Homo sapiens: one gene and its partner. The protein of the gene in region 2 purifies or fractionates together with the protein of the main gene of each other region. This does not show direct contact. Each region holds a gene or a part of one and is shown on either strand. Other genes may lie near its edges.

Evidence for each region.
Region 1: the proteins of QSER1 (region 2) and ROBO2 fractionate together in Homo sapiens (co-fractionation; one large-scale study listed by BioGRID). This does not show direct contact.

Annotation. Positions count from the first base shown.
Region 1 is NC_000003.12:77,620,334-77,624,164, forward strand, and holds part of ROBO2 (roundabout homolog 2 isoform 23 precursor), read left to right. Parts: intron 1-1,893; coding exon 1,894-2,099; intron 2,100-3,831. UniProt on the Homo sapiens protein: Receptor for SLIT2, and probably SLIT1, which are thought to act as molecular guidance cue in cellular migration, including axonal navigation at the ventral midline of the neural tube and projection of axons to different regions during neuronal development.
Region 2 is NC_000011.10:32,972,740-32,976,570, reverse strand, and holds part of QSER1 (glutamine and serine-rich protein 1), read right to left. Parts: intron 3,175-3,831; coding exon 3,022-3,174; intron 1,324-3,021; coding exon 1,228-1,323; coding exon of another isoform or gene 1,015-1,227; exon of another isoform or gene 941-1,014; intron 238-940; coding exon 97-237; 3' UTR 1-96. UniProt on the Homo sapiens protein: Plays an essential role in the protection and maintenance of transcriptional and developmental programs.

The DNA of each region.
Region 1 (3,831 bases), on a different chromosome or scaffold from region 2:
AGATATTTATAAATGTTATGTGTCCTCTTCCTGTATTTCAATTTACCTCTTAATTTTGCTTAAATAGGAGTACATTTTTTATTCCATCAAGGTATATTTGTTTTATCAAGAGGTATCAATTCATAAGCATATTGATGGCAACATTTATAGCAAGATGTGCTCATCTATCCTCAAGCTTTTCTGTACTAATACTTAGGAAACTTGCTATTTCTTCCTATTTTTCAACTAGCAGGCTGTGAGGAATGCTGAATACTAACTTGGGGCCTGAACTTTCTAATCTGTTAAAGATTGAAGATTGGGATCTGATGATATTGAGGTAGCTTCCAGAATTAGAAATTTTTTTAACATTGAAACATCTAGAATCCTGTTAACATTGAGGTTGGTTACAAGTTCAAGAAGCCAGTTGGGAGAGGAATATTAAACAAATTCGGGAAGATTAAAATATTTTCCCCAAATCATGCAAATGACAAAGAAAAGTAATCTAATGTCTTTCATTCACCAGCCAACAATAAAAATGCATAGTACTTTTTAAGATCTCACCTAAATAGCACAGCCTTTTAAATACCTTTTATATGAAGGCAAAGAAAATACTTACTATGTTAAAACATGTAGTACACTCACTTTTTAATGCTGGTAACAAATAACAATAAATTCATTTCATTTAGCATTTTATGGTTTAGAAGAAAATCTGAGTAGACTCAAAGCAAATCAACTGGACCCTACTGCCCAGCTTCACACTTTGTTAGCTACCTGATTTGAAACAAGTCACTTAAATTTGACCTTCACTTTAATAAATTCTAAAGAAGGTTGGGCCAAGCATGATAGCTCATGCCTGTAATCCCAGCACTTTGGGTTGCTGAGGCAGGACGCTTGCTTAAGCCCAGGAGTTTCAGACCAACCTAGACAACATAGTGAGAATCCCACTCTACAAAACATTTAAAAACTAATTGGGCATGGTGAAGCACACCTGTAATGCCAGCTACTTGGGAGACCAAGGCAGGAGGATCGCTTACGCCTGGGAAGTCAGGGCTGTAGTGAGCCATGATCGCATCACTGCACTCCATCCTGGGTGGCAGAACAAGACCCCTTCTCTCCAAAAAATTAAATAAATAAATAAATAAATAAATGAGGGTTGATAATGCATGATCTATTTATTTCATAAGGTTGAGATTAGAATTATTTATTCATTGCAAAAGGTTTATTTAACACACTAGTGTTCCAAACACAGAGAATCCTTAGATGAATTGTTTATGCCTTTGAGGAGTTTAAGACTTTGTTGGGTGAGACAGATACATAAATAGCTACTAGAGCACAAATTAGTTGTGCCTACCCTAAACTGGGTTATAGTGAAAGTGGAAATAGCCTTCCAGCCTTGATGTGAGAGAGATCGTGTGGGGAGGAAGCCTTCTAGGGTGGGAAATGTGTTCAGGGTTGGGAGGTAGGGGATATTAGGTCCTCATGTGACATCTTTTCTTCATAAGGGCCAGCAGGCAGCATGGGTTACACAGACTGAGTAGAATTTTGACACTAAACTGAGAACAAAAGTATAATATTTTTGGAGAAAAATATTCACTTTAAATAGTTACTCGTGGCGAATATTCCTAGTCCCCTCTAGATAACTTCTTTTCACAAAAATACTGGGCCCGTATTTTTTTTTCTCCGTGTGTTATCCTATAAATACCAAGTGAAGAGTTTAATGGTTTATGTTTTCCTTGTTTGGTGAGGCTCGTATTCGTAGCCATTGTTTCTGCTGAAAGCATTATGAACTCCTAAATTAGTTAATGGAAAGGAAGAAGACAGTATGAGTTACTATAGCATGCATTTAATTAAAATTATGATTTTGTTGCATGTTAATAAGTTGCTTTTCTTTTTTAAATTTCATTTGAATTCTAGGCACATTCAAAGCAATAATCAACCTCCACAGCCTCCAGTTCCACCGTTAGGTTATGTGTCTGGAGCCTTGATTTCTGATTTGGAAACGGATGTTGCAGATGATGATGCCGACGACGAAGAGGAAGCTTTAGAAATCCCCAGGCCCCTGAGAGCACTGGACCAGACTCCTGGATCCAGCATGGACAATCTAGACAGCTCTGTGACAGGTAACGGAACCAATTTAATAGGAAAAACTGACCTATTGGTAACATTAAAATGCATCAAAAGTCAACTACTTCCTTATTGTAAGATTTATTCCACTCCATCTATTTCTGTAACATTTTAAATGTGTTAATATTAAATACAAAATTCAAAAAGGATTTGGAAATACTTTTGCTTTGCTGCAAAAATGATAAGAAAATTCATGAATTTTAAAAAGCTTTAAAGACATGAAAGAAAACTCAATTATATCTAGGGCTTTCATGAGAAGTTCACTCTACTAGGAAACCAAGTCTATTACATTAAAAACCTTGACTTTTAGAAATGATCTTTTTTATATATATCAGGAATAACATATGAAGTGAATGCAATCTTAAAATGCTTCTTGATATTTCACTCTGTAAAATCATTCACTGATGGAAAGTAAGCACGTCTCCTGAATAAGCCACTTTAAGGTTGCACAAGGTATTATTTTTAGAATGAAGAAAATGTGTAGTGAGATAAACCATATGTTTATGCATTTCACATTGCTGCATCTAGTAAATGCTTCTCTTCCAAGAAATGCAGTTATTTTTTCTGTTTATTTCTTTGGCTTCCTCTTGCCTTGTTCATCAAACGAAAGAGTTGCATTGGTACTCTTCTATGATGATCCCAGGACTAAGGTATAACCTATTTTCAGGGATTTAAATGTACCAATTTTTTTAAAGAAAACTTTAAATCCTAAAATGGACACAATGAATTTGGAGAAAACTAAAAATTCAGTCTTTCTATTCAAATAGATATACACTGTTGGACACACAAGAAAATGCCTCTTACATGACTGTGTAGACCGAGCTACTACAAACTGAAGTCTGGTCTCTGCATTTCACTGGGTCTTCTCAGAAGACCACTCATATCTGTATTTACCGTGATGACATCTTTCATCCTAGGAGATATTTTACCACAATCCCGCTTAATTCATTTTTATGCCAACAGCTTCCAAACTTTCACAGATTTTACACAATGTGTTAGAGTTCTACAAACACTGATGGGAACTGGTTTATGACAGGATAAAGCAGCATCAGCGCCTATGATTTTCCTCTGTATTCCTCCCTGAATTACTCAATGTGTGATGCATGAGCCCATTTTTCAGTTTTTCTTCTTATCCAGGGGCTGGTCTGCTTGCCAGCCTAATTAAGATTTAAGAGCTGCAGATACACCGCTGTGATTTGAAATCCAGATCCAACCGAAGGTGACAGAGCACAAGTTAAAATCTTCAAATGCAGAGAGCTGACTTATTAGTGCACTATTATGTTAAGCCCCTTTGCCTGAATTTCCAGCATAATCTCCTTCAGGGTAAAATTCTGCATATTTTTGCATATTTCACTAATGATACTGAACTCTTTTCCATTAGGAATGCAGTAACAAATTGCAATAATGATGAAAAACAGTCAGCTATAGTCTGTGTAGTTCTTTTATTAAATATTATAATGTCAAAGATGATAAATACGTCTATAAATCAAGAGAATGCCATTTTGCACTTTTACATGCTCACCTGTGACATGTTAGGCTGCCTGATGTGACTGCAGCTCAAGCAGTCTGTATTTCTCCTGTAGCTAGTGTAATGTTCATTCCAAATGAAGCTTTTATTGCTGAGAAAAAAAGTCTGGTTTTCTCCTTGAATTCACTGCTTAATTACTGCCATATATAAAAACCTCAGGGTGTTTAAGTTTGTATTCCATGATGAGTTTATCCTATGAA
Region 2 (3,831 bases):
CTGCAGAAGGCCACTACTTGACATCTGATTATCTTTGACCACCCCATATCTGCCATTTCATTAGTGCTATAAAAAGATGGGATTTTTGTGGAAAAGTCAGGAACATTTCTGCTGTACATGATTTAGAAGTTCTCCAAATTTTTCAAAGAGGTCCTCCACCCATTTTACATTTTTCATACAAAGTTGAACAATTTCCTCCTGTCCTAAATCTTCATTTTTTTTCTGCACCGAAGAAATCTAAAAAAAGAAAATCGCCAAATTAGCTTATACTTATCACATCATATTTAAGTTCAACTACAAGTACTGGTATTTTATTTTTTTCTTAATCCTATCCATGGAGAATGATTATTTCAGCTAAATTTGGGTGAGATCTCATCCTCTCATCTTTGGCTCCAAGGTGGCAGAAAGGAAGGCTAGAAAAAGTACTTCAGACTTTCTCCATTTCTTCCAATTACGTTAAAAGTCAAATGACAAATTTTGGAGTCGATTCTGCATTTTAGAGCATTGTAAAAACAGTGAACCTATGTTGCATCACCATCTTTGCTTTCTCTTTTGCTATATAAAGGTTAGATTTATGAGCATCTTTCCATACCAGACTACTGTCAAACACATTAGATATAGCCTTGGACCCTTTATAATGAAAAGAAGTGATAGTGCTGGTCAAATAAGGTAGTATTGTCTACAACCATTTAGCATGGCTGTGGAAATTAATGCTTATATCCCATCCATGAGGTGATATTTTGTCATGTATAATCTCTGAACAACTTAAAAGCTACAATTAAATTTTAACTTTCAGTTTTTCATGCCAAGGCACAAAACCCCACTTCTCTGCAATTAAGTGGGATAAGGCCATTCTAAGTAATAAGTAAGGCAGTGAGATGTCAAAGCAGTGACTGAAGTGAATTAAAGCAAGATCATCATACACTGTGAGAGAACAAAATGCAATAAAACATCATTTATTATGGCGATGTAAAGCAAGCACCAACAGCTTCAAAACATTACCAATTATAGCTCCTACAAGAGGTGGTGAGGCTCGGGTAAATCTGAGCACAAAACATAGCAGAGAGACTCAGAACAATAAATCAAGTCATTATTTACAGAATACATAGACAAAATACATACACACATGTATTTCACAACTCTCTTTAAAACACTCCAAAATACTATGGCTAGAGTCTCCTTAACATTCTGAAAAACATTTTTTTTAAGTAAATGAGAAGAAATTACCTCATCCTTACATATCAGATAAACATGGTACTTATAATGATGGAGTGAATGATACAAAGAATACAACTGTATTTTCTCTGGATCGACAGCAAACTCCTATAAAAAGAAAAAAGTTTATAGATACATTTCATGGAGTATCTGAGCTAAGAACACTTTGAGGAAAATACTAGATCAAAAGTCTCAATGGCAATGTTGAAAATGACATATATGGGTAGGTATTCAGTTGGGTTAATATGGAGAGACTTATTCAAAATAAGAATTTAAATTATATTTTAAAATCTTATTCTTTATCCTGCATATAAATATGCATTATTGAAAAAACTTAAGCATTATAGGAAAATTTAAACAATAAACATATGAGATGATTTATAAAATAAAAGCTCCCTATAATCTCCTGCTTCAGAGCTAAACAAAGCTAATGGCATGTTATATATTTTTTAATGTTTTCCCCCAGGTATAACATGTATGTTAATAACACTAATTTTGTAATGAGAAGGGAATCACACTATACATATTGTCTAGCAACTTTTCTTCTTTCTTCCAACGTGTTTTTTGACCTAACTAATAATTGGCTATCTTTTCATTTAGTACATATAGCTGTCCCTCCCCATCCTCCCCAAATACAAACTATATGAGGGTAAGGACTTTTAACCAGTTTTCACTGTTGTATCTCTAGTACTTAGAACTGTACTTGGCATACTATAGGCACTCAAAAAAATTTTTCTGAAAGAATGAACAAATCTATCTCTTCTTTATAAAAAGCACGTAGTATGACATTACGTGGCTCTTCATTTATCTAACCTCACACTGGTGGTACATAATTGGATTGCTCTTACAAACAATTCCACAATGAGCAAAGGTATGTATTTTTATGCATTTCTGAATCTATTTCTACAGAATACTTTTTTTTTTTTTTTTGAGACAGTGTCTCATTCTGTCACCCAGGCTGGAGTGCAGGGGTGCAATCACAGCTCACTGCAGTCTCAATTCCCTGGACTCAAGCGATCCTCCCACTCAGCTTCTCAAGTAGCTAGGACTACAGGTGCATGGCACCATGCCTGGCTAATTTTTTTTTCTCCCCCCAGGGTAGACATGGGGCCTTGCTTTGTTGCCAAGACTGGTCTCGAACACCTGGACTCAAGTGATCCTCCTGCCTCAGCCTCCCAAAGTGCTGGGATTATAGGCTTGAGCCATTGTGCTTAGCCCTGAATACATTTTTGCTGTGAAGTTGATATGTTGCCAAACTGTTTTCTGAAAAGGTTATAACAATTTATACTATGTTTGAAGATGAACAAATTCCAATTTTAATGACTTTGCAGATATGAAATAAACATTTCATCTTTTTATGGAATGTGTTCTGCACACTTACTTATCTATGTGCATGCATATACAATTAAAAATATACCTATATTACAAGTAATGCATATGTTAATGAGTTTGAATTAGCCATTTCACAATGTACACACATTTCAAAACATTTTGTACATAATATATGCAATTTAAAAAATGAAAAACTACCTACAAATATATAAACATGAGCACGAGATGATTTCTTCCATATTAGTCAATTTAAGAAATTTGTGAGCACATATTATATGCCTGATACTGTGCTATAGAAAAACAATAAACCACCATGCGTCCCTGTTCCTCAGGCCAGTGACGCTTATTCCTACCTGAAAAACCTTCACACTTAATGACAACATAGTAAAATATTTGCTTGTTTCAATGTTTTAAGTAGGAATTGTATTAACAATTGGAAAAGGTATAGTTACATTAATAATCAATTACACTTACTTGTGCAGATTTGGTGGTTGTTTTAGAAGTCCTTAGAGTTTTCTTATTATAGGCTTTGCCATTCATTTTGATTTTAGAAATAGCAGTTCCTCCACTCTTTGCTTTAGAATCTCGAGTAATTATTGTTAGTTCAGGAAAACTTTCCAAAGCATTCTGGAAAACAATGAAGCAAAATAACTGACACCAGAAGAAAACTAACCTAAACTACTTCTAGCTATCTAAAATTTAGAAGTGTGTGTGCACACAAACACCTATTTGCAGAGAGGTGTGTGTGCACACAAACACCTATTTGCAGAGAGGTGTGTGTGTACTGATGGGATATGCATACATATACATACACAGGTTGGGGTTTAAACATGGTCATAAGCTCTTTGCAGCCCTTCCTATTGGATATGTAATCTATTTCCCTTAAATCCCTTAAATCTGAGCCAACTCTATGACCTGCTTATTTAAGCAACAGCACACCACACTGGGAACCCTTAACAGGGCCAAGAGTTCTTTCTAGTAATGTCTCTGGCTTCAAGGCAGGAGAAAGGAAGACATACATGTTTCACTAAAGCCCTACCACTTAAACCACTGCTTGCCCCGTGAAATGTGGCTGGGCCTTGCTATAAAGAAGTCATCTGCCTCTGGTGAAGATGACGACAGAGGAGAAGCGGCACTGTAGTGCTTCTCTGGCTTCACTCTTCTCTTGCTTATTTTGACTGCAAGACAAGTACTTGTAAGATAAGATCCTAAAACAGAGCATGATGGGTTTTTTGACAGTGGTTATGTGGCAAAACCAATTCCACTCCATCCTTTAAAAGCCAC